Linked DNA regions of Homo sapiens. The protein of the gene in region 3 purifies or fractionates together with the protein of the main gene of each other region. This does not show direct contact. Each region holds a gene or a part of one and is shown on either strand. Other genes may lie near its edges. The genes, in order: LSS, CIP2A, PNKD and DIAPH3.

Evidence for each region.
Region 1: the proteins of PNKD (region 3) and LSS purify together in Homo sapiens (affinity purification with mass spectrometry; 3 studies listed by BioGRID and IntAct, with this or other methods). This does not show direct contact.
Region 2: the proteins of PNKD (region 3) and CIP2A purify together in Homo sapiens (affinity purification with mass spectrometry; 2 studies listed by BioGRID and IntAct, with this or other methods). This does not show direct contact.
Region 4: the proteins of PNKD (region 3) and DIAPH3 purify together in Homo sapiens (affinity purification with mass spectrometry; 2 studies listed by BioGRID and IntAct, with this or other methods). This does not show direct contact.

The regions. Positions count from the first base shown.
Region 1 is NC_000021.9:46,225,766-46,232,727, forward strand, and holds the start of LSS (lanosterol synthase), read right to left. Parts: upstream 3,010-6,962; 5' UTR 2,981-3,009; coding exon 2,967-2,980; exon of another isoform or gene 2,835-2,966; coding exon 2,669-2,834; intron 1,926-2,668; coding exon 1,787-1,925; intron 1-1,786. UniProt on the Homo sapiens protein: Key enzyme in the cholesterol biosynthesis pathway. Catalyzes the cyclization of (S)-2,3 oxidosqualene to lanosterol, a reaction that forms the sterol nucleus.
Region 2 is NC_000003.12:108,558,422-108,565,446, reverse strand, and holds part of CIP2A (protein CIP2A), read left to right. Parts: coding exon 1-92; intron 93-2,202; coding exon 2,203-2,321; intron 2,322-4,605; coding exon 4,606-4,798; intron 4,799-5,418; coding exon 5,419-5,493; intron 5,494-5,579; coding exon 5,580-5,690; intron 5,691-7,025.
Region 3 is NC_000002.12:218,266,392-218,273,530, forward strand, and holds the start of PNKD (probable thioesterase PNKD isoform 1 precursor), read left to right. Parts: upstream 1-4,127; 5' UTR 4,128-4,144; coding exon 4,145-4,211; intron 4,212-4,989; coding exon 4,990-5,158; intron 5,159-6,178; coding exon of another isoform or gene 6,179-6,371; exon of another isoform or gene 6,372-6,556; intron 6,557-7,139. Other genes in the region: AAMP (angio-associated migratory cell protein), read right to left, coding at 52-196, 456-595, 1,103-1,222, 2,991-3,146, 3,575-3,695. UniProt on the Homo sapiens protein: Probable thioesterase that may play a role in cellular detoxification processes; it likely acts on a yet-unknown alpha-hydroxythioester substrate.
Region 4 is NC_000013.11:60,160,912-60,167,756, forward strand, and holds the start of DIAPH3 (protein diaphanous homolog 3), read right to left. Parts: upstream 3,018-6,845; 5' UTR 2,856-3,017; coding exon 2,676-2,855; intron 1-2,675. UniProt on the Homo sapiens protein: Actin nucleation and elongation factor required for the assembly of F-actin structures, such as actin cables and stress fibers. Required for cytokinesis, stress fiber formation and transcriptional activation of the serum response factor.

The DNA.
Region 1 (6,962 bases), on a different chromosome or scaffold from region 3:
CCAGTGGACACGTGACCCATGTGACCTTACCTATCATTGGAGATGGCTCACACTCCTTACCCTGCCCCTTTGTCTTGTATCCAATAAATATCAGCGCAGCCTGGCATTCAGGGCCACTACCGGTTTCCACGTCTTGGTGGTAGTGGTCCCCCGGGCCCAGCTGTCTTTTCTTTCATCTCTCTGTCTTGTGTCTTTATTTCTACAATCTCTCATCTCCGCACACAGGGAGAAAAACCTACCGACCCTGTGGGGCTGGACCCTACAGGAGGCTGAGGCAGGAGAATCACTTGGACCCAGGAGGCAGAGGCTGCAACGAGCCAAAATTGTGCCATTGCACTCCAGCCTGGGGAACAAGAGCGAACGCTGTCTCAAAAAAAAAAAAAAAATACAAAAAAACTCCAACTCACAGCCAGCCCACAGGAAGGGTCCCAGCCAGCTAAGCCCAGAGCCAAAGCAGCAAGAACAAACAACACAGTAATCCCCACTGACCAAGCACCACTGCATGCCTGACACTGTGCACATGACCAAACCTGATTCCAATCCTGTCACAGGTCAGGCTACAGAGGCAAAGTGGGGCTGACCCATCTCCTGACCAACTCTATGTCATTGCCTTACCACGAGCCCTGAGAACAGTCTAAACAGGCCCTGATGGGGCCAAGGGAAGAAGAGCACCTTGACTTCCCCTAAGGACAGGCCCTCAAATCCCAGGACAGAAAAACTCAATGCTGTACAGTCCAGGTGGCAGCAGGGCTAGAAGTCAAAGCAGAGATGGGGATCCCAGTGCTCCTCCTGCTAGTCTGGTTACCTGGAATAAATGTGCCTCAGCTTTCTAATGTATCTCATTAGGCTTATTCTAAGGACTAAAAGAAGAACAGGCCTTGAGCAGGGCTTGGCCTACAGTAAACACCATGGAACTGTTTTTAACGTTAAAGGCCAACTCTTCCCAAACTAACATATAAGCCTATTGCAACTTCATTTCAAGTCTGGGACAAAATCAGGATAAAGGCAATTTGGATGAGTAAATGAATAGACACAGGTAAGAGATGTTTTAAAAAGAAAGGCAACAAAGGTATATAAGGACTTTCTATCTATTACAAAGTCAGCGTAGTAAAAGAAAATGATGTATCAGTAAGAGTTATCACAGAAACAAAACCTATTTATGTAGGAATTCACGTCATTGAAACAATGTGATTACAAGTCACTAGGGAAAAAAGTCCTATTGCATAAATTCATAGGAGGGAATTTCCCATTTTACAAGGCTGAGGATTTCTGTAGAGAAACACTCCCAGGATGCAAAATAGTCTTGTGTAGCCAAATCAGTTCAATACCCAGGCAGTCCAACTGCTATGCTCCTCCTACTCACCAGCCTGAACCTGAAGCTCTCCTGCAATAGCCCCGAGGAAGTTCACAGCAGATATCAGCTCCCCACCCACCACTCTGCCCACCTACAGCCCCTTGGCATAGGCTGGGCCTTCCACCTGGAATGTCCATCCCATCCTGTACTGAGACTTCAAAGCCCACCTTCCTCCTCCCTCAAGGCAACACAGAGCCCTAGAGAACCACTTGCTTCTCTTATCAGAGAGCCTGTCACCCTACACTGGCAAGGCTAGCTGATCCCCTAGACCAATAGCAGGACGACTCTGACATAGGGCAGAGTTTGCCAGCCCTTTTCTTGTGAGCCCCTGGATTTTCACCTGCTTCATCAAAACCCTAGACCAGGCTGGGCCAGGATCCCAAGGGTGATCCAGGGTGGCCATACCATCAGGCTGGGGCAGCATACTCCTACCTGGCAGGAGGAAAAGTGGGCCACCATAATCACCCGTCCAGTGCCCATCCTCAGCCTGCAGCCCCACGTAAAATGTCATCCCGTTCAGAGCCCCCTCAAAGGCGGTGTGGGCTTTGGGCAAGTCCTTAAAGTAATTCTTCTGCAAAGAGATCGAAAAAAAAAAAAAGAGATAGCTGACGGGACTGTTGCCCGGCCAGAGGAACCCTCTTCACATACAGCCCAAGTCAAAACAGTGAATGTAAATTACTTTAAAAGTTTCAGCTGTTTCCATCAAAAGTCTGAAACTCTTTGATGAGAGCATCACACCTCAGCAAAGTAAAAGAACAGCTGCACATTTTCGTTGCTTTATTTGCCAGTCATGTATTCTTCACAACTTCTCCAAGATGTCTGGAATAAACCAGGCACCCAGACTGTAGGGTGGGGCACGGGTGCCGACCTGGGCCTGGGACTCGGGCCTCTCAAAGAGGGCCCAAGGGGCGGCACAGCCTTTCCCTCGGTGGCCGGGGCTCGGCAGGAGACCCTGTTTACACTGCAGACTCTGACGACCAAAATCTCTTACAATGCACACAACTAAGACAGTGGATCCAAACACTTTTTGTGAATAAAAACAAAGTTACAACTATCTTTGCAACTCTCCTATAAGTCAAAAATTATCTCAAAATAAGGTGCTAAAAAATAAAACATTAGGAGTCTCCTATGCGTGGTTTAGAGATGAAGGGGCTGAAGCGGAGGGGCCCGCGAACGCAGTTCCCGTGGGCGCTCGCCTTGGGGATGGGCGTCGCTGGCCGGGTCCTCCCACCCGCCTTTCTGAGAGAAAACGTGCTCCTCACGGCTCACCCCTCAGGGTCCCGAGCTCGCTGACGCTCCGCGGAAGCAACTTACGGTGTCCAGCCCCAGGGCGTAGGCTTCCAGGCCGGTCTGCTCGCGGCCGGCGCGCTCGTCCTGCAGGTAGGTCCACGTCTGCCGGCCCCTCTCGCAGTTGAGTCGCCAGCGGCCGAGGTCGGTGGCGGGCTCGGTCTTGTAGGGGCCCCCTCGGCGCCGCAGACACCTGAGGACCACCGGCCATCAGCGACCCAGGCCCCGCCCCAACGCCGGCCGCCGGCCCACTGCCCCAGTCGCGCTCTCCTCAGCACCTAGGACCACCCCGCATTCGTCAGGAGCCCGGGGCGAGGGGACTCACGTGCCCTCCGTCATTGCTGCTGCAGTGCTCTACGCCGCCCACTGCCAGCTGCCAGATGTCCGCACCCGGGACCTGCCGCCCAGCCCCGCCCCTCCCGCCCCTCCCGCCCCTCCCGCCCCTCCCGCGCGCACTACGCAGGCGCAGGCCTCGGCAGGCGCTCAGGCTTAGGTGGGCCGACGCCCACGCAACCAATCAGAGCGCCGCGAGCGTGACCCCGGGGTGTGCCAGGCGACCACAGTGGTGGAGCGCTTGGTGCCCCATGCGGCGTGGGGCGGGGCCTGAGGGAGCGGGGATGGTGGGTGAAGGCGACGGGACGGGGGAGGCGGGTGGGGCCTTATTGGCGGGGCATGAGGGGCGGGGCTGGTGGGTGGGGAGGTGGGGGCGGGGCTGGTGGGTGGGGAGGTGGGGGCGGGGCCTGGTGGGTGCGGGTGGGGGCGGGGCTGGTGGGTGGGGCCGAAGGGCGGGGGCGGGGCCTCTCGCGCGCCCTCTAGAGGCTTGCGTCCCGGGAGCCCGGCCTCGTGCGCCGCGCTTTGAGGTGAGCCTCTCTGAGAAATTTGTGAGGAGGGTCCAGCCGCGGGTCGGAAGGAAGGACGTGGGGAGCGAGGCTCGAGCGAGCGACAGCGAGTGCGAAGGTCGGGTGGCAGGGAATTGCTCTCGCGCTGCAGGATTTGCCCGGACGCCGGGGCCGGGGGTGGGGGCGGGAGGCCGCCCTGAGGTGAGGTGGGCGCGGGCCGTCGGCTCCAGTGCGAGACCAGGGGGAGGGCGGGGCGGAGCGGAGGAGCCGAGGGCGCCGCCGGCGTCCCTGGGAAGCTGAGCGCCGCGTAGCTTCGCCGGGGGGAGTGGGGTAGGCGCGGTGAGGCCGTGGGCCCCCACACCTGGCGGACCACAGGGGCCAGAAGCCCTGGAGCCCCGCCAGGGAAGGGCTGCGTCGCTGGCCAGGACCGAGCGCGGTAGAGCCTCAGCTGCTCACGGGGTCGCTGGAGTTGGGGGTGGCCCCAGGAGAAATTAAAGGTGAAAAGCCTTAGCAGCAGAGGGAAGAGGAAGATGGAGGCAGAGCGAGTGACCGAACTTGGAAGGGACAGCCGGGCGCAACAGGGCAGGGGGCGTCTGACTGTTGGAAACATGGCTGACGTCTGGAGGCTGCAGCCAGTGGTCCGTAAGTCAGGTCAAGGACCCACAGAAGACCCCAGCATGTCTTCACCTGGCCCACAGAAGCCCTGACATCCAGTTACAACTGCCCCAGCCTAGTGAGCATTTCGGCACCCACTCCTCAATTCCTACCCCCAGCCTAACTTCGAAGGGGCGGTGAGCCACAGCAAGCCGGAGGAGAAAGTTGGAAGAGAGAGTGGACAAAAGAATACCCACAGGCACCTTCCCCACAGTGGAATAGCGGGGTTTTAGACAATCAAGGATAATCACCTCTTCCTATCCCAGTTCAGAAACGGATGAAAAAGACACAGCAATAAGATGGGTGGGTATCAAAATATCAGCTTTGCCACAAATTAAAAACCTAGCTTGAAGGACAAGGCTTAAATCTGCAAGCAAGAGGGCAAGCTACTAAATCACCCGTTAAGTCAGACAAACATATCCCCCAGCCTCTAGGCCATGAAACTGCCTCACCAAGCACTATGCAATTGAGTGCCCACCAGAAGACACCCCTCCAGTCAACCCACAGACCCCAGAAAGAGTACCCAGAGGAGCCTGAGCACACTCCACCCTATCTGTTCTCTGAAATTCAATCAAATGAGTCACTCTACTTCTCTGGAAGCAGAAAGAGGCTGGAAGTTTTTCTCCAGGTAAGTTCCTCCATGTAGAAACATGAAGAATAGGGATAAGGGGCTTCAGCCTGGATGGAATCTCACACTGAACCTGGCAAAGCTAGGTGAGGGAAGAGGTTTCAACTGGATAAGAGTTTGAGTTTTGATATCTTAATGGACTGGACTTTTTATGAGTAAAATAATCCGCTCTTTTTAATGTCTGAAAGAAAAGAAAAAGCTGTAAACTACGTCTGAGAATTGACACAGTTAAGCTTCTAGGGGCAGTCATGAGAAAAAACACTGTTCCTATCTGCTTACATACTACTGCATCCAGCTTATTCATTAAGCCAGATACAGAAGGCTCTGAGGATTTTGGCCTCAACAACTGGGTATATGGTGGTGGTCATTTACTAAAATAGAGGTGTCTTTTATTTATTTAGTGACAGGATCTCAGTCTGTCACCCAGGTGGGAATGCAGTGGCACAATCATTAGCTCACTGCAGCCTCAAATTCCAGGGCTAAGTGATCTTCCGGGCTCAGCCTCCTGAATAGCTGGGACTACAGGCGTGTGCCACCACACCTGGCTGATTTTTTTAAAGTTTGGTAGAGACACGGGGTCTCGCTATGTTGCCCAGGATGGTCTCAAACTCCTGGCCACAAGGAATCCTCCCACTTCAGCCTCCCAAAGTGTTGGGATTATAGGCATGAGCCACCACACCTGGCCTAAAATAGGGAAAGTTTGATTGGAAAATTCAGATTAAAGTGGGGACAAGTTATACTAGAGATGCTTATTAGACATTCAAGTGAAATATTGAGTAGGCTGGCATTCAGGAGAGAACATAATGCTAGAGATAGGAATTTGGGAGTCATTTGCTTTCAGGTAGTATTTGAAATCATGAGATTGGACAAGATGAATTAGGAAATGCACATAAAAAAGAGAAGTTCTAGAATGAGCCCTGGGGCACCGACCTTTTCCAGTATAGAGGAATGGCCAGAGAGAGGAGGAAAACCAGAGGAATATGAAGTCATAATATAAGTGAAGACATGGTGATCTTTGCTGAGGCTTTGAAGGGATTGCAAAATGAAGACAGAATTTATTATTGGATGCAACAAAACAATGTATTGGTGACTGACAAGAGCTATCTAAAGAGACATGGGGGGAAAAGCCTAATGGCAGAATTTTGAAAGAAATTTTCAGTTAAACATGGCAGACTGAGCATAAACATTAACCTCCATTTCCTGCCCAAACCCTACTCACATAAAGTAATAAAAGACCAAAAAAACCCCACAAAGAATGGGAGAGGAGACACTAGTAAGCAAGAGAAGTCAACAAAATTATAGAGACTGGGAATGGATGGAGAAGTGATAACTGAGTTAGCTAGAGAAAGTTGAGACTTACGTTTGTGGGTGAAGCCAACAAGAGACCATTCCTGCCAGCAAATACCAGGAAGGTGCAGAAATTGGAATAACTGGTGGAAAATTTTTGTGAGGAACAGTATGACCATAGATCCCCTCTCCTACTTGGGTGGAGGAAGTCTCCAGTAGTTGAATCAGAGTAGGTGTTACCTCAGGCATGAGGCATAGCTGAGGACCACTGAAAGCAGACAGATTGAGTTAAAGTCTACACATGTGGGTCCAGGCTCACTTCTCCCACTTAGCCAGATAGCATGAGATAGTGGGAGGATCCCTCTGGAGCAGCTGGCCCACAAGAGTCCTGCAAACACTGGCAACTATGACCTAGTAGAAAAACAAACCTATTAGCTGGCAGACTGTACCCATTGACAGTTTCCAACAAGCACCATCATCAGCATGAGCCAGACATTTGGGGAAAACAGTGCAACATTACCTCCAGCCATGCAAGTGATCCATCTTGGACCACTGACCCAGTCAAGCCTTCAGATGACTATAACCTCAGCCAATACCTGACTGCAGCTGCATGAGAGATCCCAACAGAAAGCTGCCCAGCTGAATCCTCCTCAAATTTAAGCTACTATATTTGGGGTAATTTGTTCAATAGCAACAAAAAAACTAGAAAAAAGGACTACAAAGTGCCCAGCACAATAAATTGGGCAGGGGTTGGGGAGGGAATGGGGAGGCAACATATGAAGTAATGTCATTGAGAAATTTGAGAACACCAGGAATAGAGATGATCTCAAAAATTTCCAGCAACAAAAAAAGCAAAAACACAAAGGAACGATTTCCAATCTAAAATTCTATTCTCATTCAAATGATGAATCAA
Region 2 (7,025 bases), on a different chromosome or scaffold from region 3:
CTGCTGATGTAATTTTGAAAACTCTTGATTTGATTAACAAACTTAAACCATTGGTTCCTGGTATGGAAGTAAGCTTCTACAAAATACTTCAGGTGAGTTTAAACTCTTCAAACATTGAAGTTTATTCATACATAAATGGTCCTAATATAAGTTTCTGTTTTAATATTCTTAATCTTTAGAAGATAATTCTCTTAGAATTGGCAATGAGAAGAAAGTTTAAAGTTGTTGTCTTAAGCAGTTATAATAGTCTCACTGCACAGTTATTTTATATACTTTCACAGGAATTGAACATAAGTGCTCATGACACTAATGTAGAGAATGTTCACAATAGTGCTGCTTCCTCAGCCTTTTCCTTTCTTGTGTTGTATTTGTATATTTCTTCATTTGTTTCTGTTGGCATTGGAGGAAGAGTGATATTTGTTTTAGGGTTTTTGTTTTTGGTTAGGGTTGATGTAGGGTATTAAGGGGATAGGGAGACAGCTGGAAGAAAAGGATTGTGATAATTAGAAGGGCTGTGCAGAAAATAGCTAACTCACAAATTTCAATGATAATAGTAGCTGAATATGATCTCTAGCTGTTATCAAAAGGCAAAGTACAACAAATTTAGTTCAAAGTTCTAACTGGCTTTTATTTATGATTCTAGAATTTGGCAGCCTCATTCTATAAAATAGAATGAATCATTCCCCTGGGCTAAGCAGAGAAGGTTGACTTTATAGACCAGAAAAGGGCTGAAGAAAGCACAAATAGGGAACTAAAAGCAGATTGGTCATTTCAAAGTTACTTTTCCTATAGAATTATAATAAAGGGGGCTTCCTTATTATACTAACTCAGGTTGACTGAAATCTCCTGGTTTTTTGGAAAACTGGCCCATTTCAAAGTGCAGTTTGATTACATGGCACTCATCCAAGTGACTCCTTTCTGGTTTGATCTGGTCTGCTAAAGCATAGTGGAGGAGACTACTCCAAAATATTAGCCTCTTAAAAACTTTGTGTAATAATATCTACAACACCTACCTTTACAACAGATGTTTAACAAAAATGAGTGAATTAAATTACTGCAGTAGCTTAACAGAGACATCTCTAGTGACTGTATAGACAGTGTAGAAGCCAAAACTGAAACCTTAGGCAGGGACCACTGGCATGTTTTGAGATTAAGGGACTGAGTTCAAATGTTGACTCTACTGGTTCTTAGTACAGGCTTGAGTAAGTTATTTCACCTCTCTCGACTTCAATTTCCTCGACTACAAACTGGAAATAATGAGGCTTACCATTGAGGGTTTTGGAGATAAAGCTCTGCTCTTATCACAGTTCTGTGACACTGGATTATACTCAAGTACCTACAAGGTACTCAATATTTTAATTATAAGGGATTTATATTTTAATATTTTCTTCACTAATATCTCAATGTATTTTTAAAGGAGTCAAACTGATGTTATGTCCATTATTTAAGATGTTTTTCATAATACAGGTTGAGCATCCCTAATTTGAAAATCTGAAATCTGAAATGCTCCAAAAAACAAAACGTTTTAAGTACCAAAATGAGGCTCAAAGGTGATACTCAAAGGAAGTGCTCACTGAAGCATTTTGGGTTTTTGGATTAGGGATGCCCAACCAGTAAGTACATGTAAATATTCTAAAATCTGAAAAAAATCAGAAATTTGAAACACTTCTGGTCCCAGACATTTTAGATATATGTTGATGACTTGGGGCTTACAATACTAATGTAAAATATTTACTGACATAAATGATTGAAGTAACTGTATTTTTTCGATCTTTAAATTTAAATGTTCTAATTTAATTTGAATTTTACTTTTTATTTTATAGCCTTAATTTGGAAGTGATTGGCCATTTTTTTCTTTTAAATGATAGCTTGGAAAAAAACATTAATTCTACACATCAGTCAGTTGTGGGTTTTTTAATCCACGAAAATATATAAGGCATAATTTTTATAGGCACATTTGAAAGCATTCAAAACCTTTGCCAGATTTTTTTAAACTGTTCATATTGATTGCATTGCAGTGTAAACAGCTATAACAAGGTATAATATATTCAAACTATATAGACTATAATATATTCAAACATTAGAAACATTTTAGAATTTGCCTAGAATTAAGATTTACATATATTTACTCACCTCCTATCTAAAAGAGCTGACATTGTTTATTCTTTCTGCTGCTTCTTTTTTGGTTTCTGATTTATTTAGGACCCACGTTTGATTACTCCTTTGGCTTTTGCTTTAACGTCAGATAATAGAGAACAAGTACAGTCTGGACTGAGAATATTATTGGAGGCTGCTCCACTGCCAGATTTTCCTGCTTTAGTGTGAGTTGTAATCATTTGCAGTGTATCTCTTGTGGTGTTGGAATACCCTGCTATGTCTCTTTAGTCCTCAGTATAGATACACAAGCAAATTAGTGAATTGAAGACTTCATTGTAATAGTAATTTTTCAAGTGATTTCTAAAAATGTTTGATTCTTATAAATGAAAAGTTCAGATGTATACTCACTCAGGGAAAAGCTAGATCCAGGCAGTTAAATGTTCTTCAGGTACTATCCCTCTATGTCTCTAGCCACTTCTTTTTAATGATAACTTCTGGACACTCTTAAGCCTACATCCTCCCAGTTTAGTTCCTCCATAGAAAGAGCTTTTCCTTCCTGACTGTTTAAGGAAAAGGTCTAAGCATTAGTCATTGACCAGGCCTGGGTTATCCATGAGAACGATGTGGACTAAAAGTTAGTTGGGATAGGAGAATAGGAGAGTTCCTAAAGAAAAAAATCTGAACTTTTATCAGAAAGTGGAAAAATGACAACCAGGCAAAATTTTCTACTATACTCGTTACTTTCAAGCAATAAGAATATTTGCAATTATGTTTGAAAAAAAATTCAGATTTCAGGGCTCTCTGAACTAAATGTCTATTAGGAGTCTGGTTTAAAATTTTTTTAAGTCATTTATATGTATGAATTTGTAAAAATGGTTTGAATAATTTGAAGTAGTTGATAAACAGGTAAGATATTCCCTGTATACCGGGATCAGCAAACTGGCCAGTGGACAGGCATCTGTTTTTGTAAATAGTTTTATTGGAATATGGCCACACCCACTCATTTTTATACTCTGTCTATGTTGCTTTCACTCTATAAAAGCAGAATTGAGTAATTGTGACAGAGACCAGATAGGTCCTTGAGTCTAAAATACTTACTATCTTGACCTATAAGAAAAAGTGCTGGTCCATGCTATATGCTATTCACTGATTTAGCGATTCCACTTTTCAGAATTAGCAATTTAGGTCATCATACCTTAAGAGTTAAAGTATGGGATGTAAGACCTAGAGAACATATAACCAAAATTCCCTTAATTTTATAATAAATATTTTTTTAACAGCAACAACAAAAATACACAGGAAGCTTTTCAAGTTACAAGTTAAAAGTGGTCTGTAAAGCTGCTCTATTTTGTGATGGCCTGCTTGCATAAACTGGTAATCTGACATGAAACAAAACCTTAAGAGCTTCAAAGGGGAATCTGCAGCCTCACTGAACATGGAAGTCTTATCCTCTGCCTCTGTGTGTGAGGCCTTCCCACCATTTTGACTGTGTCTTGGCATTCCCTGTCTTATTTGTGTTGTAAATAATTTTCTCTTTGGGCATTATCTCAGATGTCCATTTTATGCTTACTATTTAATGCCCTTATTTGACATTATCTTGGGCGTTTAATAAACTGAATGTATATTATGGATGCATTGGTAGGTAGGGTTTTTGTGTGTGTGTATTTACTTGTTTGTTTTCGAGACAGGGTCTCACTCTATCACCCAGACTGGGGTGCAGTGGTGTGATCATGACTCACTGCAGCTTCGACCTCTGGGGCTCAAGTGATATTCCCAACTCAACCCCCTGAGTAGCGGGGACCACAGGCTTGTGCCACCACAACTGCTTAATTAATTTATTTTTTTATAGAGGGGTCTCACCAGGTTGCCCAGGCTTGTCTCGAACTCTTGGACTCAAGTGATCCTCCCAAAGTGCTGCGGTTACAGGTGTGAGCCACCATGCCCAGCCTATAATAAATTAGGCTGAGTGCCTGCCATCTTGCAGTTTGCACTTTAGTTAAGAGATAAGTGAAAAAAATATTTTGTTTTGTGGTAGAAAGCGTGTTCCAGATAAAGGAACAGCTCATATGAAGGCCTGAGGTAGGAGAAAGAGAGGATTTTAAAGGGTTAGAATGGAAGTCAGGTTGGTGAAAAGTATGTACTGAGTGAGAAAGGAAAAGGACTAAGGACGTAAAGGCCAGGTGATATCACCCATGATAAGAACATTATTCTGACCAGTACCAATAACTTTGTACTTATTACAGATAATCCACACTCATAAACTAGTCTTACAATGCCTCCAAACCAGAGGTGAAGCTGTCATTATAAAAGGTTAGAAACAGAAAAGTGGGTGCTCTGGAAAATTCAGAATATTTCCCAAGACTTCATTTCATCATGGTCTCCAAGATTATTTGAAGACTTCTATTCAAAAAAAGGACCCATTCTTAAAAATTCCCTAATTCTGCACTAAGTCTGCCTTTTCTTCTATTTTCGTATAATTTTTTTTTCCTTTCTTTGACTCCCATTCAGACTTGGAGAAAGTATAGCAGCAAACAATGCCTATAGACAACAGGAAACAGAACATATACCCAGAAAAATGCCCTGGCAATCATCAAATCACAGTTTTCCAACATCAATAAAGTGTTTAACTCCTCATTTGAAAGATGGTGTTCCTGGATTGAATATTGAAGAATTAATAGAGAAACTTCAGTCTGGAATGGTGGTGAGTGAAAAAATAGCAATTATAACCTGGTACATATTAGCTATATGTCAGTCCCAATTATAACGTGTATCTAAACACTGTCAGGTACAGATTTCACTATTGAAACCTTAATATAAGAAATAACAATATTCTGGAAAATTTGGAAATAAGAAAAATCAGTCAAAATTTCAACATTTTGCCGGGTGCGGTGGCTTACGCCTGTAATCCCAGCATTTTGGGAGGCCAAGGAGGGTAGATTGCCAGAGCTGAGGAGTTCAAGACCAGCTTGGGCAATATGGCGAAACCCCGTCTCTATTAAAAATACAAAAAATTAGCTGGACGTGTTGGCTCATGCCTGTTGTCTCAGCTACTCTGAAGGCTGAGGCAGGAGAATCACTTGAACCCAGGAGGCAGAGGTTGCAGTGAGCCAAGATCATACCACTTCACTCCAACCTGGGTGACAGTGAGACCCATCTCAAAAAAAAAAAAGAAATATTTGTGACTTACCTGATGTAGCATTTGTTTTTATTTTGTTACTCATCATTAAGTTTTAATGATTTAGTTTTGAAGTAGGCATTTATTTTGTCATTGTGTCAAAATATTTTATTAAAATTTTAAGTTTTTTTACTCTTAAAATGTAGGTAAAGGATCAGATTTGTGATGTGAGAATATCTGACATAATGGATGTATATGAAATGAAACTATCCACATTAGCTGTGAGTATAAGCTTATTTTAACAATGTGTAATAAGCTTTAATAGATGTATTCCTAAAATGAAAATTAATGATATGTTTTCTTGTAGTCCAAAGAAAGCAGGCTACAAGATCTTTTGGAAACAAAAGCTCTAGCCCTTGCACAGGCTGATAGACTGATTGCTCAGCATCGCTGTCAAAGAACTCAAGCTGAAACAGAGGTGTGTAGAATATAAAGACACATCTGATTTGTAGAAAAATTAATAAGTAAAACATGCAAAATATTAGTTATGTATTTGTTACTCTAATTGAAGTAAATTCTCCTTAGCATTTGACATGCCTCCTTCCTTCTTCCTGAAATTCTGTCCTCTTTAATTTTGGTTACATCGTTACCTGATTTTTTTTTGCTACCTTGTATTATTTTCCTATGTTATTTATTTTGTACCTTTAAGTGTTGGGGACTCTGGGACTTATATTCTAAACCTTTTTCCTTTAGTTATGTGTTCTGTGGTTTCAATGGTTACCAAAATAGTAATGTTCCTAATTTTATATGTCAAGCACAGATCATTTTCCTGAGCACTATGTGCCTATGTTGCTCCATTTAAATATACAGCAAATACCACAAACTCAGCATAACCAATAATGAACTAATCACCCTTCCCTTTTTAAAATTATTCTTATGTATTCCCTCTTCTGTTTTTAGTGTTCTACAAATAAGAACCCTGGAAATCACAGTTTTTACCTCCTATAATTATTCACCAAGTCCAGTTGATTCTACCTTCTAAATATTACTCTTTTCTGCCCTATCTCTGCTTCTACCACTATTTGTTATAGGCTGGATCCTTTTCATTTTTTGTATGAATCATAGCAGAGCAATTAGTCTTCCTACCTGTAGTCTTCTACCCTCTTCTCAGATACTCTACAGCCAGTCATCTTTCCTTGGTTCTACCCCCTTCACCTAGCCGCTCCCCCAAGGATCTCTAAGGCAGTAAAATGATCCTGTCCCTCTTGTGCTGAGTATCTTTCACAGTAGCTGCTATTGCTTTCAAATATCATTAAAATTCTTTAGTTTGGCATATAAGGATTCTAACTATATAGGCCTCAATCCACATCTTTCATTTCTGCGCATTCTTTGCAGTCAGCCATGTTAGGCCACTTTGCTTTTTCTGAAACTTGACATATTCTCGTATTTCCTTGTCGTGGCACTTGACTTTCCATGTCTGGAACACCATTTCCTCTCTTCTGCCTAACTCATAATCCTTCAGATTTCAGTTAAAATATCCTCATTACCCAGAAGCCTACTCTGGTCTCCTTCCCACACGTGTTTGACGATCCTTCCTCTGTGTATCAAACCTACGCTTATCTCTTAATAACATTTTTCAAACCACGTGGAAATTCTTTTTTCCCTCACTCATGGTATCAAAGACTGCTTCTATAGCTCCAGGCCCTAGCATAGCACTTGGCACATAATAGGTGCTCAGTAAATTTGGCATTGTATTATGTACATATATAATGTATACCTTAAGAGTGAACTTACTGCAGTAATATGAAATTCC
Region 3 (7,139 bases):
GGGATTCGGCCTCTGCACCCAGGAAAGGTCACTCAAGGGAGGTGCTCTCACCATCAGGGAGGACTCGGCCACAGGTGGCTGGGCAGTTGGGACCCTGGAAGGTCTTGCAGTCACCATTCGGGACTTTCCACATCCAGGTGTTGCCGTCAGCTGTGCCCGCCAACAGGACAGGTGCCCGAGGATGCCACTCCATCCACTGGACAGGGAGGAAGGGGCAGCAGGGAGGCCCGTCACCCCATCCCACCTAGAAGCCTGCCCCATGAGCTCCACCCAAGGTTTCCTGCCTCTGGGGTTCCGCGGGGACTTTCCAGGTAGCAGGTAGATATTCTTCCTGTGCCTTGGGGCGCATTGGCTCAGAGCTGGCTTGGCGCAATAAAGGCAGAACTGGCCTCCCAAGCTTGCACCCCCAACAACCCAAGGCCCCACAGAGCTGACTCCCGCTCTGATGATCTTACCTCCAGGTCTCCCGCTTCAAAGGACCAGACCTCCTCCTTAGTGTCCACCTGCCACACTTTCAAGAGGCCACTCATGTCCCCTGTGGCCACTAGAGTGGAGTCATGGCTGAAACCAGCACAAGTCACAGAGTCTTTATGGCCTTCAAAGAAAAGTGGGCAGAAAACAGAGGAAAAAAATAGGGTACCTGGTGCTGGGGGCATGTGATTCTGGTATCTGGCCCACTGAAAGGACCAGCTAGGAAAAAAAGAGGGGCGGGACTGAGCAGAACAGGTGCTGGAACTCACCACCACTCTAGGAACCAATACTCCCATGTCTGCTGGGAGACACTGCTGGCCCTCACTCAACCAGACCAAGTCCCAGCCTCCTATGCCTTCCCCCTTCTGTCCACTCTACACCTCTGCCCGCCTGCTCCTATACCAATGTGGCCTTCTCTGGCCTTTCCTGGATTCCCTTGGCCAATTAGTGCCTCCTGCCTCTGTGCCCAAAACACACTAGTATTCGCCCCGTGTCCCTGGGGCCCAGCACAGAGCTGGCACAAAAGAGATGTCACTAAGTGGCTGTTGGATGCACAACCTCTGCAGGTCAGCCTCCTAAGATCTCCCAAAAGAATATGACCTCTCCCAGGCCTCTACCCCAGCCCCCTCACCTGCACACTCAAAGAGCAGCTCCCCATCGCTGAGCCGCCATACGAAGGCTTTGTCATCTTCACCCCCGGTCACTGCCAAGGTATTGGTCTTGGGGTCCAGGCTCACACAAAACACAGATGCTGTCCCAAGAGATATTCCATGGGTAAGGGGACAGAGCTCCCACCTAGGGCTCTGTCCTTCACAATCTTCAGGAAACCCACCCCCTTTCACCCAAAGCGTGTCTTTCCTCCTGGAAAACACAGGTACATCCAAGTTCTTCTAAGTTTCAAGAATTGGGTTGTTAGATCCTTCCCATATTTGCCAAGCTCCCTATTTGCCAGAGTAGATCCCCTCACTGTGTGACTCCCGTCACCACCCAACACCAATGCCATGGACAAGAGGTGGGGACAGGTGCAGGGCTTACAGTTGTCAGCATGGGATGCCACCGGGGTTGGGTACAGAGCGAGGAGAGCATCACGTTAAGGGTTTTTTGTTTTTTGTTTTTTGTTTTTTGAGACAGAGTCTTGCTCTGTCGCCCAGGCTGGAGTGCAGTGGCACAATCTCAGCTCACTGCAACCTCCACCTCCCAGGTTCAAGCAATTCTCCTGCCTCAGCCCCCTGAGTAGCTGGGATTACAGGCGCCCGCCACCACAACCAGCTAATTTTTGTATTTTTAGTAGAGATGGGGTTTCATCATGTTGGTCAGGCTGGTCTCGAACTCCTAACCTTCTGATCCACCCGCCTCGGCCTCCCAAAGTGCTGGGATTACAGGCATGAGCCACCGTGCCTGGCAACAGTTTCTTACTAAGAACTAGCACTTGAGAAAGTTATATAAAATATGCTCAAAAAGATATAATTATCTCTCATTTTATTTTATTTTTTTGAGATGGAATCTTGCTCTGTCGCCCAGGCCGAAGCGCAGTGGCACAATCTCAGCTCAATGCAACCTCTGCCTCCCAGGTTCAAGTGATTCTCCTTCCTCAGCCTCCGGAGTAGCTGGGATTACAGGCACATGCCACCACACCCAGCTAATTTTTTTTTTATTTTTAGTAGAGATGAGGTTTCACCATGTCGGCCAGGCTGGTCTTGAACTCCCGACCTCAGGTGATCCACCCGCCTTGGCCTTCCAAAGTGCTGTGATTACAGGCATGAGCCACCGCACCTGGCCAATTATCTCTAATTTTATACTCACTACTTTTATTAACTTTTATCAAAGATAACTTTTTTTTTTTTTTTTTTTTTGGAGACAGACTCTCATTCTGTTGCCCAGGCTGGAGTGCAATGGCGCAGTCTTGGTCCACTGCAACCTCCGCCTCCCGGGTTCAAGCAATTCTCCTGCCTCAACCTCCCGAGGAGCTGGGACTACAGGCGCCCGCTACCACGCCCAGCTAATTTTTGTATTTTTAGTAGAGACGGGGTTTCACCATATTGGCCAGGCTGGTCTGGAACTCCCGACCTTGTGATCCGCCTGCCTGGGCCTCCTAAAGTGCTGGGATTACAGGCGTGAGCCACCATGCCCAGCCAAATTTTTGTATTTTTAGTAGAGACTGGGTTTTGCCATGTTGGCCAGGCTGGTCTCGAACTCCTGACCTCAAGTGATCCACCTGCCTCAGCCTCCTAAAGTGCTGGGATTTCAGGAGTGAGCCACCACGCCCGGCCAAAGATAACTTTTTAAAAGAAAACTAAGAGGTTAATCAAGGTTAACTGGCAAAGTAGAGGGTGTCTCGACTGATGCCAGAAGCCAAGCAATCATCCATTCTGCCACACTTTCCCACCTGTGGGCTCCTCCAGCGCAAGGCCAGCATCTTGCCCATCTCTGTGTCCCCCATAACGTTCTGTCCATGGCTGATGTTTAATGCTTACACGCCCACCTAAACTGATTTGAGGTGGATCGCCTCAAAGACCTACCTGAGTGCAATGCAAAGGTGACCTCGCTATCGTCGGGGCCCTCCATGCTGCCGACCACCCCTTCCTGGGGTTCTAGAACCCAGCCCTCTTCGTTGCCCTCTTCCTCCTCTTCTTCCTCAAAGTCCACATCTTCCATCTCCTGGGCCAGGTCATCTGCTTTGGGGAGAGGGTTAGAAGATGGGGCTCGGGAGGCGGTAAGAGGTACGGAGAGAAGCATGAGGAGGCCTGAGGCTGGGGCGGGTCATGTGGCGAGAAGGGAAGGTGGAGTCAGACACACCGGGGTCCGCGGGGGCGCGCGGGACACAGGACGGGAGGCCACGGCTGGCCAGAGACCGTGCGGTAAGGGAGGGCCAAGGGGATGATGGGAAGGGGGTGTGTGAGGGGAAGGGCCAGAGGAGGCGTCAGGGAACCCCCACCCCAGCCAGGCCTGAGAACTAAGTGTGAGGGTGGGAGTGGGGGAGGAGGGGAAGAGGGATATCGGTAGGAATGACCAGTCGGGTGTGGAGGGGAGCGGGGAAAAGCAGGAGTCAGAGGCCAGGGGTGAGCGTCTCCTGTCCCATGGCCTGAGGAGCGGCAGTTCTCACCTGGGTCCGGCGGACCGGGATCAAGTTCTACCACCTCGATAATCTCTTCATCACCATGGAAGCTTAGGGTCTCCAGTGGGGGGGTGTCAGCAGCAGCCCCGCTTTCCGATTCGGACTCCATGCGGCGCAAGCGGCGGATCCACTTCTCTGGGCCCAAACGCCTCCCAGAGTCAGCTCTGCGCGACGACGCGGAACTCGAGCCCCTCCTCCCGGCAGGAAGTAGGCGTAGGCGACTCCCCAGCAGGAAGAGCGACGGCCGTTCGGCCAATAGCTACGAAGGTTGGCTGGCCGCCTCACCAATCACAGAGCGGCATTGGAAGATGGGGCCGGGGCGTGGCGGAGAGAACCCAAACTCCGCCCCACCTGACTCCGCCCCCAACTGGAGGGAAACAAGCGAGCGCGCGCGCCTCCGGGGTCTCCTGGGAAGAGTAGTTCTCCTGGGTCCGCTCTGCGGGCTTCTGGGAGATGTAGTTTCTGGTCTGTAGGCAGGACGGAAGGAGCGGGGGAGGCCCCTTACGCAAACTACAATTCCCGGCGGGGAGCGCGGTGAAGCGGGGGTGGGATCTGAACATGGCGGCGGTGGTAGCTGCTACGGCGCTGAAGGGCCGGGGGGCGAGAAATGCCCGCGTCCTCCGGGGTAAGGAGAGGGACCCCGGGGAGGGCAGGACTGCAGAAGATCCCTTTTCTTTCACGTCCAGCCCGACGATAGCAGGAGGTCAGGGCTCTTGGTTCCTCCCCACACTTTTCTGCAAGATCTTAGAGTCTGGGGGTGCAGAGATGCTCTTTAGAGGTCACCCAGTGCATCCCCCCGCCTTCGGGTTGCTCGACACCTCCGGGGTCTTGCTGCAAGAGGGAGCTCCTAGGAAGCCTGTTGGACTCCCGCGCTCCAGGTGTTTCACACTCACCGCAGTGCAGAGGAAAGAGCCCCGGGCTTCTGGAGGTTTGAGTTCCAGCCCCGGATAATTAGCAGTTTGACCTTGGGCAAAGCAGTTTTTCTCTCAGGGCTTCAGTTTCCTCTTCCGTACAGTGCAAGGGATGGAGTAGACTATCTTTAAGGTCCCTTCCAGTGCTAACATTTGCAGTTTCAAAACCTTTTCCCGGATTTCCTTCATACGTCTTATGTGAGTCCCACTGCAGTCCTTCCCATGCTGTCGTCTGAGGAAGAACAGCGAAGCTTTTCGTCCTGGCACCAGGGTGATGAGCCCGCAGTGACGTGGAAGTGGCTTCCAAAGGTGCCACCTCGGTGGCGATTTTCCCATTTCCCTTTGGATTCTCCTTGGCACTTCTTACTTCAGACTGCAGTCACTCCCCTTCCCCAGATCTCAGCCGCTCCTCCCAAGCCCTTACTGCCCCCCACCTCCCCGCTTGCTTTCTTCTCATCTCTTCTTACTGACCTTCCTTACCTCCATCCACAGGGATTCTCGCAGGAGCCACAGCTAACAAGGCTTCTCATAACAGGACCCGGGCCCTGCAAAGCCACAGCTCCCCAGAGGGCAAGGAGGAACCTGAACCCCTATCCCCGGAGCTGGAATACATTCCCAGAAAGAGGGGCAAGAACCCCATGAAAGCTGTGGGACTGGCCTGGTGAGTTTTAACCACCCCTTTGCCCACCAACGGGGCGTGGCTTGTAGGGGAGGGCAGGACTTAGAAACTTCTCCAAGTTTCAGGTGGCGAGCTGAATCCAAAGTTGTGGGAACAGAATTGTTGGGTTCGATTGGAATCTCAGAGGGGTGGGGCAGTGGAGGTGGGAAAGTATGTGGAATTGAGAAGACAGTGGGTTTACTGTGGAGTAAGCTGAGTTGATCTGATTCAGACTTGGGTCCCTGGCCTCATCCTCCCTTTTGGGAGCTTGGAGTGAGACCCAAGTTTAAGTAAGTAGTTCGTTGAGATCATGTGAGCTTGTACTAGTTGTATAGTAGTACTCAGAAGGCGTTATGAACATTGTGATTGGGCTCTGACTCTGACCTTAATACATATTATTGACCAATATTAAAGAGAAAGGAGGAAGAAATCAACATTTTTTTCTGCATGTGAGGTGTGCCAGTACTTTGCCATGTAATGTTTTAGTGTTTGAGATAAGTATTACATCCCCATTTCACAGAGGAAGGAACTGAGACTGAGCTAGGATTCTCACCTAGTCTGTGACTCCATGCTCTTTCCCCCATACCAAAGTGCCTCCCAAGCAGTGGTTACTTAGCTTAAGAGGGGAAAACTGGGAGGGTACCTTGGCCAAGTCTCAGAGAGGGAAAGCGTCAGGGCTGCCTGGAAAATCCTGCACAGGTGCTGTTGCAGGAATGCAGGGCTCGTGCTGAGGATCAGGCTCTAGGCGGGAGGAGGAAAGAGGCAGGCAGAGACCCAGCCACACTGGGCCTTTTGTGCCATGTTTGGACTTGGCCAGGAAGTGATGGAGTTACGGGGTTTTAAGCAGGGAAGTGACAGGATCTGATTTGTGTGGGTCCCTCCAGCAGCCAGCACAGAGGATGAATAGACTATAAGAGGTATTGCAGCATTCATGCAACTGATGAAGCTAGAATGACTCCCCCCAGCTCCTCTGGCTCAGGCTTGGCCCCTCCCCAAACCCCGTGCACATCTCCCCACCCGTAGGGCCATCGGCTTCCCTTGTGGTATCCTCCTCTTCATCCTCACCAAGCGGGAAGTGGACAAGGACCGTGTGAAGCAGATGAAGGCTCGGCAGAACATGCGGTTGTCCAACACGGGCGAGTATGAGAGCCAGAGGTTCAGGGCTTCCTCCCAGAGTGCCCCGTCCCCTGATGTTGGGTCTGGGGTGCAGACCTGAGGAGCGCTGCGACCCTCCTAGGCTATTGACTGTTAAGTCCTCAGGTTTGGCCCAGATTCCAGTTCGTGCCTCTGAGGTCCACCAGAGGGCGCATGAAGCCCAGGCTGTTGCCAAACCCTACCCTGCCCCACACCAAGGAGCCAGCCAAAGGCAAATAAAGTTATTGAGTGTTTAGTAGAAAGGAACCAGGTCTGGGTTTGTGAGTCCCTTGGGATGGGAGGGGCAGAGGGTGGGGCTGGTTACTCATGTGTGCTCCCTCTCACAGAGCTCAGTGTTCCCAGCTGGATGGTGGGGCAAACCCAGAGACTTAAGTGCAACCAGCCTAGGCCCCGGGCCCTCGGGACCAAGCCCTCAGAGCTGCCGGCCAGGAGGGTGGGGTCCCGCTCAGCCTTGAAACAATAAAGAGAATCAAAGAAGGTATTCAGGGTGTGGAGGCAAAAAAAAGCACTGCTCTTTACTGAGTCCAAATGACTCGACTCTGGGCCTCAGTTTCCTCATTTGTTTTGTTTTTTGTTTTTTGTTTTTTGAGACGGAGTCTCGCTCTGTTACCCAGGCTGGAGTGCAGTGTTGTGATCGTCAGCTCACTGCAACCTCCACCTCCTGGGCTCAAGTGATCCTCCTACCTCAGCCTCCTGAGTAGCTGGGACCCCAGGTGAGTGCCACCATGCCCAGTTACTTTTTGTGTTTTTTTTTTTTTTTTGGATTTTTTTTTACTTATTTTTTTTTTTTTTTTTTGAGACAGAGTTTCACTCTTGTTGCCCAGGCTGG
Region 4 (6,845 bases), on a different chromosome or scaffold from region 3:
TACCCAACTCACAAGTGACTTGAAGCCCGCAACTATACATTTGGTAGAAAACAAGAATTTGCCAACTTTAACAGGACTCAAAGTAAAACAAGATTTCAGCGGGTACCAGAGCTCCTGCTTTCTTACACTAAGATAGGAGGGAGTGACCAGTCTACCACTCCATTCTACTACTCGCTTGCTGCTTTGCAGAAGTGTGCAAAACACTGGCCACCTAAATTACTCCTATCCATCACATCACCAACCTATATTACTTGTTCCCATCAAAAACAGCTGCCCCAGGCTCAGATAATGACTGGGTGACCTGAAAAGATTTAGGATAACGTCACTTCATCCAATCAAGAAAAAGCCAAGAACTAACTTGACATCTGCAAGAACAGTGACTGACTTGACACCTACAAGTACAATTACTTTCTGAGGCATTGCTGGGAACTTTGATGGTCTCAAAGATCCCTCTCCATCCAAAAAACAAGAGTTACTGGTGTGCAATCAAGAGCAGTGAAAGGTAGGCAAACTGGGAAGAGCTGCTCAGGAAGCAGTCTTGAGACTGGGATACTGAACTTTAGTACAGGAACAGAGTAGAGCTGTGCCTGGAACTTCTGCCCATGTTAAGATTTCCAGTTCAACAGGAAGGTGGTCCAAAATCAGTAGCATGCCCAGGCTCCTTGGCAGACAAACTCAAACTATCTCCAAAGAAAAGCATCTCTGGAATCCTACAGGTGAAGATAAAGCAATGAGCTTACAAAGATAAATACACACAAGAAAGAGAGCAAGCCATCATGAATCTGAGTCAATGTAGACAGCCCAGGTTGCAAACAGCAGAACTGTCAAATAAAGAATAAGAACAATCAAGTAGGAAATGTCTAAAGAAATAAATGAATAAGAAACAAAGGACTATCAAGAATGCCCAGACAGATTTGAAAAATAAGCAAATGGAACTTATTAAAATAAAAAATAATTGCTAAAATCAAATATTCAGAAAAGTAGCAGATTAGACATAGCTGATAACAAAATTAATGAACTGGAAGATATAACTAAAGAAATTACCATATAAGCAAGAACCTAAATTAGTTTCAAAGTACCAAGAGTCCAAATTACTTCTAAATTAACTGGAAGTCATGATTCATACCAGACTCCCACCCAAAAACACAGTGTTTTAGATGTGTTTTTTACCTTTACAGCTTAAGAGTGTTATCTTTTAGATGTCATTTCATCTTTATGAGAATCCATTTAACAAATGGCATGCTGAGATGGTCAATGTGACATACATAAGAATGAAAAACAGCACAGAGACTGGAAACCAAATGATGAAATCCTTCAATGAAACTTAACATAAATACTAATTTAGATCCTGTTTTCATGACCTCCTTGCTGGGAATGAGTCACAGAAAATAACACCTCCTGTATTCTGGACCACAGAAGTTAAAACAAAATAAAATAAGATTATTAACCCAGAGAGTAGACTATAAAAGGAAGAAAAGTCATTGCCTTAGTGGATTCTTCTCACATTAGGCAAAAATCTTTCATTGGGAAGTTAACTCTGTCCTATTCATTCTTCAGATTTGTCAAGATAATGATCAAGTCCATACTTGATCCTTCTGCAAAATGTCACTATTCCTATGACCATTTTGATACTTAATTTGGCATAATTAATCTATGCTGTTCCTCATTTTCAATTAATCTATGCTGTTTCTCATTTTCAGTATTCTGATATATCTCATGTATCAGAATATGGGCTCTCAGTCTTATTCAACTATTATTTTTAACTAAATGTTATAGTTAGCAACTGGTTCACAAACCATTATTCCCTTAATTTGTGAATCATGACTTAAATTTCTCACAATTTTTACTTGCCCACATAAGGCAAATGCTGTACTCTCTCTCTCTCTCTCTCTCTCTCTCACACACACACACACACACACACACACACACACACAGTTTTTCCATATTCCTAAGGAAAATGGTGGAGTGGTCAATGTGAAATTTCAATTCTGTTGGACTCATCCCAAATCTATCAACCCTCTATGTGATTTATTTACACACACAAACCCCAAAATAATCATCACTGCCTATACTTTCACTAGTTGACACCAACGAAAAGACAAGGTGTTAATCATGACACTTTCCTTAAGTGTTAAACACAAGCAAACCAGAATAGCAAGTTTCAAATATTTAGAATTCTTTCCAAGCTAAGCAAAACATTCTTTAGCAGTGACCACACCACCCGCCAAGTTCTAAAACTAGCTGTTTCAACTTGGAAAATTATATCTACCTTAAAAGTTCTTATATGTAATTAAAAGTTCTTATTAAAATAATAAGCAGAAAAAAAACCTGTCACCTAAAAGTTCATTTTGATATATCTTATACCCTCTTACACTAGGGAGGAAGGGAGAACTTCGACTTAAAAAATGCAATGTCCACCTAGATGACGTCAATACATATACACGTTTGAACTGCTTTTCACATCAGCGTTAAGAAATTTGGGGGCAACACAAAGATCTGGGCATTTGTCACAGGATCCAACTACAACTAGACCCGGTCGTTGTCAATCTATGATCTTTGGCACCTCTGGATCTCTAGAATAAAACTTGGTCCCCAAGTTCTTGTGGGCCCACCCTCGGCAGTCAGCCCTACGGCGGGGCGGGAGCGGCCCCACCCTAGCTCCAGGCGATACTCACAAACTTGGGGCGCTTCTCCCCAGGCTCCTCGGGGCCACTGGGCGGCGGAGGGTGTTGGGGGCCCTTCCTGCGCGGCATCTTGCTTTCCCGGCAGCCGCGGAGAGAGGCTGAGGAAGGGTAGGGAGTCCCAGCGGCTGAGCCTTGGGCCGGGTGGTGCAGCCGCGGCTGGTGCCGTTCCATCTTTCCCCGCAGCTCCGGGGACCGGAAAGAAGGTGGCCACTCAGCAAGCCGCAAGCTGGAAGCTGAGGGATCGACAACAGGTTTTACTCCCGGGGTCCGCCACCCAAACAGTCAGCACAGCCTAGCCCAACCGCTGAAGTCGGGGCCGCAGCCAACACATCTGAAAACTCCCGCCACCCGTGTTGGCCCGGGACTGGCCAATCCCGCGCCGCCGGATCAATGACACGCTGAGGCACCGCCCCTTCCGGGCACTGCGAAACATGATTGGCCTTGCGGCCTGTCTATGCAGCCGCTCAACCCTTCCGGCGGTCCAGGCCGCTCACCTTAAGGACGCAGAGTGGCGTCAGATTTGGAGAAGCGCCGGGGACCGTGGAGGAAGTCATCGGCCTGGATTTCTTTGGATTTGCAGATAGGGTTCCAGCAGAACTGGAAGGTGGGCGAGACAGGCCCTGCGCCACCATTTGAGCAGCGCTGGGATATAAAACCATCTGCTAGCCCTCTCCTTGCACGTCTGGGGCTGGAAAAAGTAGTTCTGGGACTGGGTACGGTGCTGGAAGGGGTACTAGGCAGGATGAAACGACGGGGCCCACGACGCTCCAAAAGGAAGCCTTCTGGACATATTTCCTGCCTAAGTGCTCGCTCTGGGGTGGCAGAGGGGTCCACCCAAAATCAGACAGAGCTAGGCTAGGCTGAGCCCTTCAGGAGCTCACAGTCTCCTGTAGTTTCCAAACCCTAACACAATTAACCAAGGAATGTAAATGTCTATAGCAGTTGTTTTAGAAGTTCCTTGAGAACAAAAAGGGAAGTTATTAAATCTGAAGGAGTGGATCTGGAAAGGTAAAAGGAAAGCTGCATAGGTTTTCACTAGGCAGGAAACAGTGGCAGGGCATTCATTTAAAAGGCATTCCATTCCAGGCAGGAGCAAGGCCAAGAAAGCATAGAGGTGAAGAAACTTTAAGGTCACATAACAAAGGGCCTTGAACTGAAACCATGCAAAAGAGTTTGTTGTGTAAACCCAAGGTCAAGCTACAAGGCAAACACCGTTTTCTCAACACATCAATATACCCTCTTTAAAAATGAGCTTTTCCTTGGAACTATTCCTTTAAGATATCTGTCTTCTGATTATATGGAGGTGGTGTAGGCCAAGACTCGGAAACATGCAGTATTGATTTTGGTACAAGAAACAACTCTAGGTACTCTGAGGAGTTTGGCACAGAGGTTCAAAAAATGAGCCTTAGTTCTCAGTAAGTCTTCACACTACAGCTTTTCTTTTTTAATATTTGTTTTACTGTGCCAGACTCTACAGCTCTGTCCTCAAAGAGCACATAATCTTTAGGGAAACTTACAGGAGAACAGCAAGGTCAGGAGAACTACAAGTAGTTCCTTATATCTTGATGACAGACCCAGATACAGATTTTATTCCTGCCATTTACTAGCTATTTGATACCGGAGATGACGTTTAACTTTCTTTGCTGCTTCATCTACAAAAGGGGGGTAATTATACTAATACCTATGAAAGAGGGGCATTTTCAGGCCTAAATAACATAGCATATGTAAAGCCCTTAGAGTTTTGTCAATGCTCCTACAGGAATACTGTAGTTGAAGAAGTTGGGATTATTACTCAGGGAGGGAGAACATGCACTATGGGGAGCCATGAAGTGTCTTAGGTAAATGGTATTAGAAAGCACTTAAAGGATTTGGGCTTTGATTAGGTGATTTGGGAAAGACTCCGTGGAAAGAGGTGGGAAGGGTTGCTCAAGATTAAGTGCCTTCAGGAAGTGGAGACAGTTCAGTGATTATCTTATCTAGGAGGATGGCAGGCTAAAAGACAAGCCTAAAGCTGTAACTGACAAGCATTAGTCATCCATATCATGGAGAGAGGGGAATGTTTGATTTTGAAAGACAAAACAAATTAAAGATCTAATTGGCTTTTATTTGCAATTCCAGAATAGGCAAAACTTCATTCTCTAAAATAGAATCTGTTCCAATGAGCTAAGCAGAGGAGGTTGGCTTTATAGGCAGAAAAAAGCTAGAGAACAGAAATAAGGAATGAGAAGCAGATGAGTTGTTTCAAAGTTACTTTCCTTATAGGGTTAAAACAGGGGAACTTTCTTAGCATACCAGCTCAGATAAACTTGGCCCCTTCTGATTGGGTGCTATGAATTTCCTGCTTTTTGGAAAACTGGCTGGTTTCAGAGTTGCTTTTGATTATGTGGCAATACGCATGAGGGACCATTCTGCTTTGGTCTGGTCTGCCGGAGCCTAGTGCAGCAGATTAGTCCAAAACTAAGGTTAGTCTATAATCATTTCCCATGAATTTATTTAACATTGATATTTTCTGATTTGCATACTGACCTTGTTATTGTCTGTGCTTAGACAAAACATGGAAGTGATCTTGTTTTGTCTCACTTCATCATGGTCACAGAGTGACCCTGTCTGATATTGCTGTTCTGTGAGATGCTGTTCATCAGGAGAACAACATGGCCTAGCTATGAGTGTCAGGCCAGTTTCTAAAAACACTGAGGCTTAGCTATAAGTGTCAAACTAGTTCCCTGATGTCAGGGACTGCTCCTTTCTTTCTCATGTCTTTGCCACATAGAAGGTACTAAATATAAGTAAACAGGAGCCATGATAATTAATTTTCAAGTTTACGTACAGCACTCTGAATTTTTTCTCATAGAAATGCACTGGAACTTCAGTGTACTAGTGAAAATATCTTTGTATAAGTTTTATGTTTTTTAAAGTACATTTTATATGTGTGCCCCAACATACTTAAACCTCATAACAGCATGCACTGACCCTCATTTTGATCACCCAGCGAGATGATACACCCCAGTGAGTCAATAGTCATGGAAATAGAAAGTTGAAGGTGAAAAAAAAGGCCTGGAAAAGCTTGGAATCTAGGAATATATTTCTTCCCTTTATCATTTCTGTTCAGTGTCAACATCCAGAAAATTATTAATGCCTTTCTTTTGATGGCTCACTCTTATGGACCATATGAGAAAGTTGTTGAAAGCTGAGGGAAGGAAGTGATTATCCTTAATCAATTTTTTTAAATGAGATGTCATTTACCCTCATTAAATTGGCAAATACTACAAAGTTCCATGTTTCCAAGTTTGGGCCAAGTTGGGAATTCCTAGATAGATAGTGGAAGTGCAAAACAGGTATAGGCACTTTGGACAAAAACTTGGTAATACCTAGTAAAGGTGAAGGTATGTGTACCTATGACCCTGCAATTCCATGTCTAGATGTCTCCCTGGAAAAGCCCAAACATACACCTACAAAGATATTTCTTGAACACTTCTGCCATATTATGATTATCTATATATGTATATATATATAGATACAGATTTTCACCCATGGTTCCTAGTTCATAAGTTTCATAACTCTTGTTACAGCCTTTTGTTATAATGTGAGAGTGCTTTAGGCCTCAGAAGTAGGCCTCAGGGAACAGAATCTCTCTCTGGGAACTTCTGCTCTCCTTTCACCTGCCCAAGACAGGAATCTAATCTGATGGTGGGTCATAAGACCCTCAGGCCAGAGAGAGTCCTGCCCCACGCTCTAGAGAAAGGAATGCTGCACAGAGAGACCAGGAAAATCTGAACAGAACAGACAGGCCTTGCTGGGTTTAGAGCATACCCTTTTGTGCAATCACATTTCGACACAATTATCCATGCTTCAATCATGAACAACCAATGAAGTCTACATAAAACGCAGGGTTCAGAGAGCTGAACACATGGAGGCTGACAGGAAGGTGAACAGGAACTCATCCACATTCTGGGAGGGTGGTGCACTTCAACTCCACAGGGATAGAAGCTCATTCAGGGCCCTTCCAGACCTCACCCTAGGTATCTTGTCATCTGGCTGTTTATCTATATCCTTTAAAATCTCCTTCATGATAAACCAGAAAATGTGTTTCCTGAGTTCTTTGTGCCTCTCTCCAAATTAATCCAGCCCAAAGAAGGTATAATGGAAACCCCTGCTTGAAGC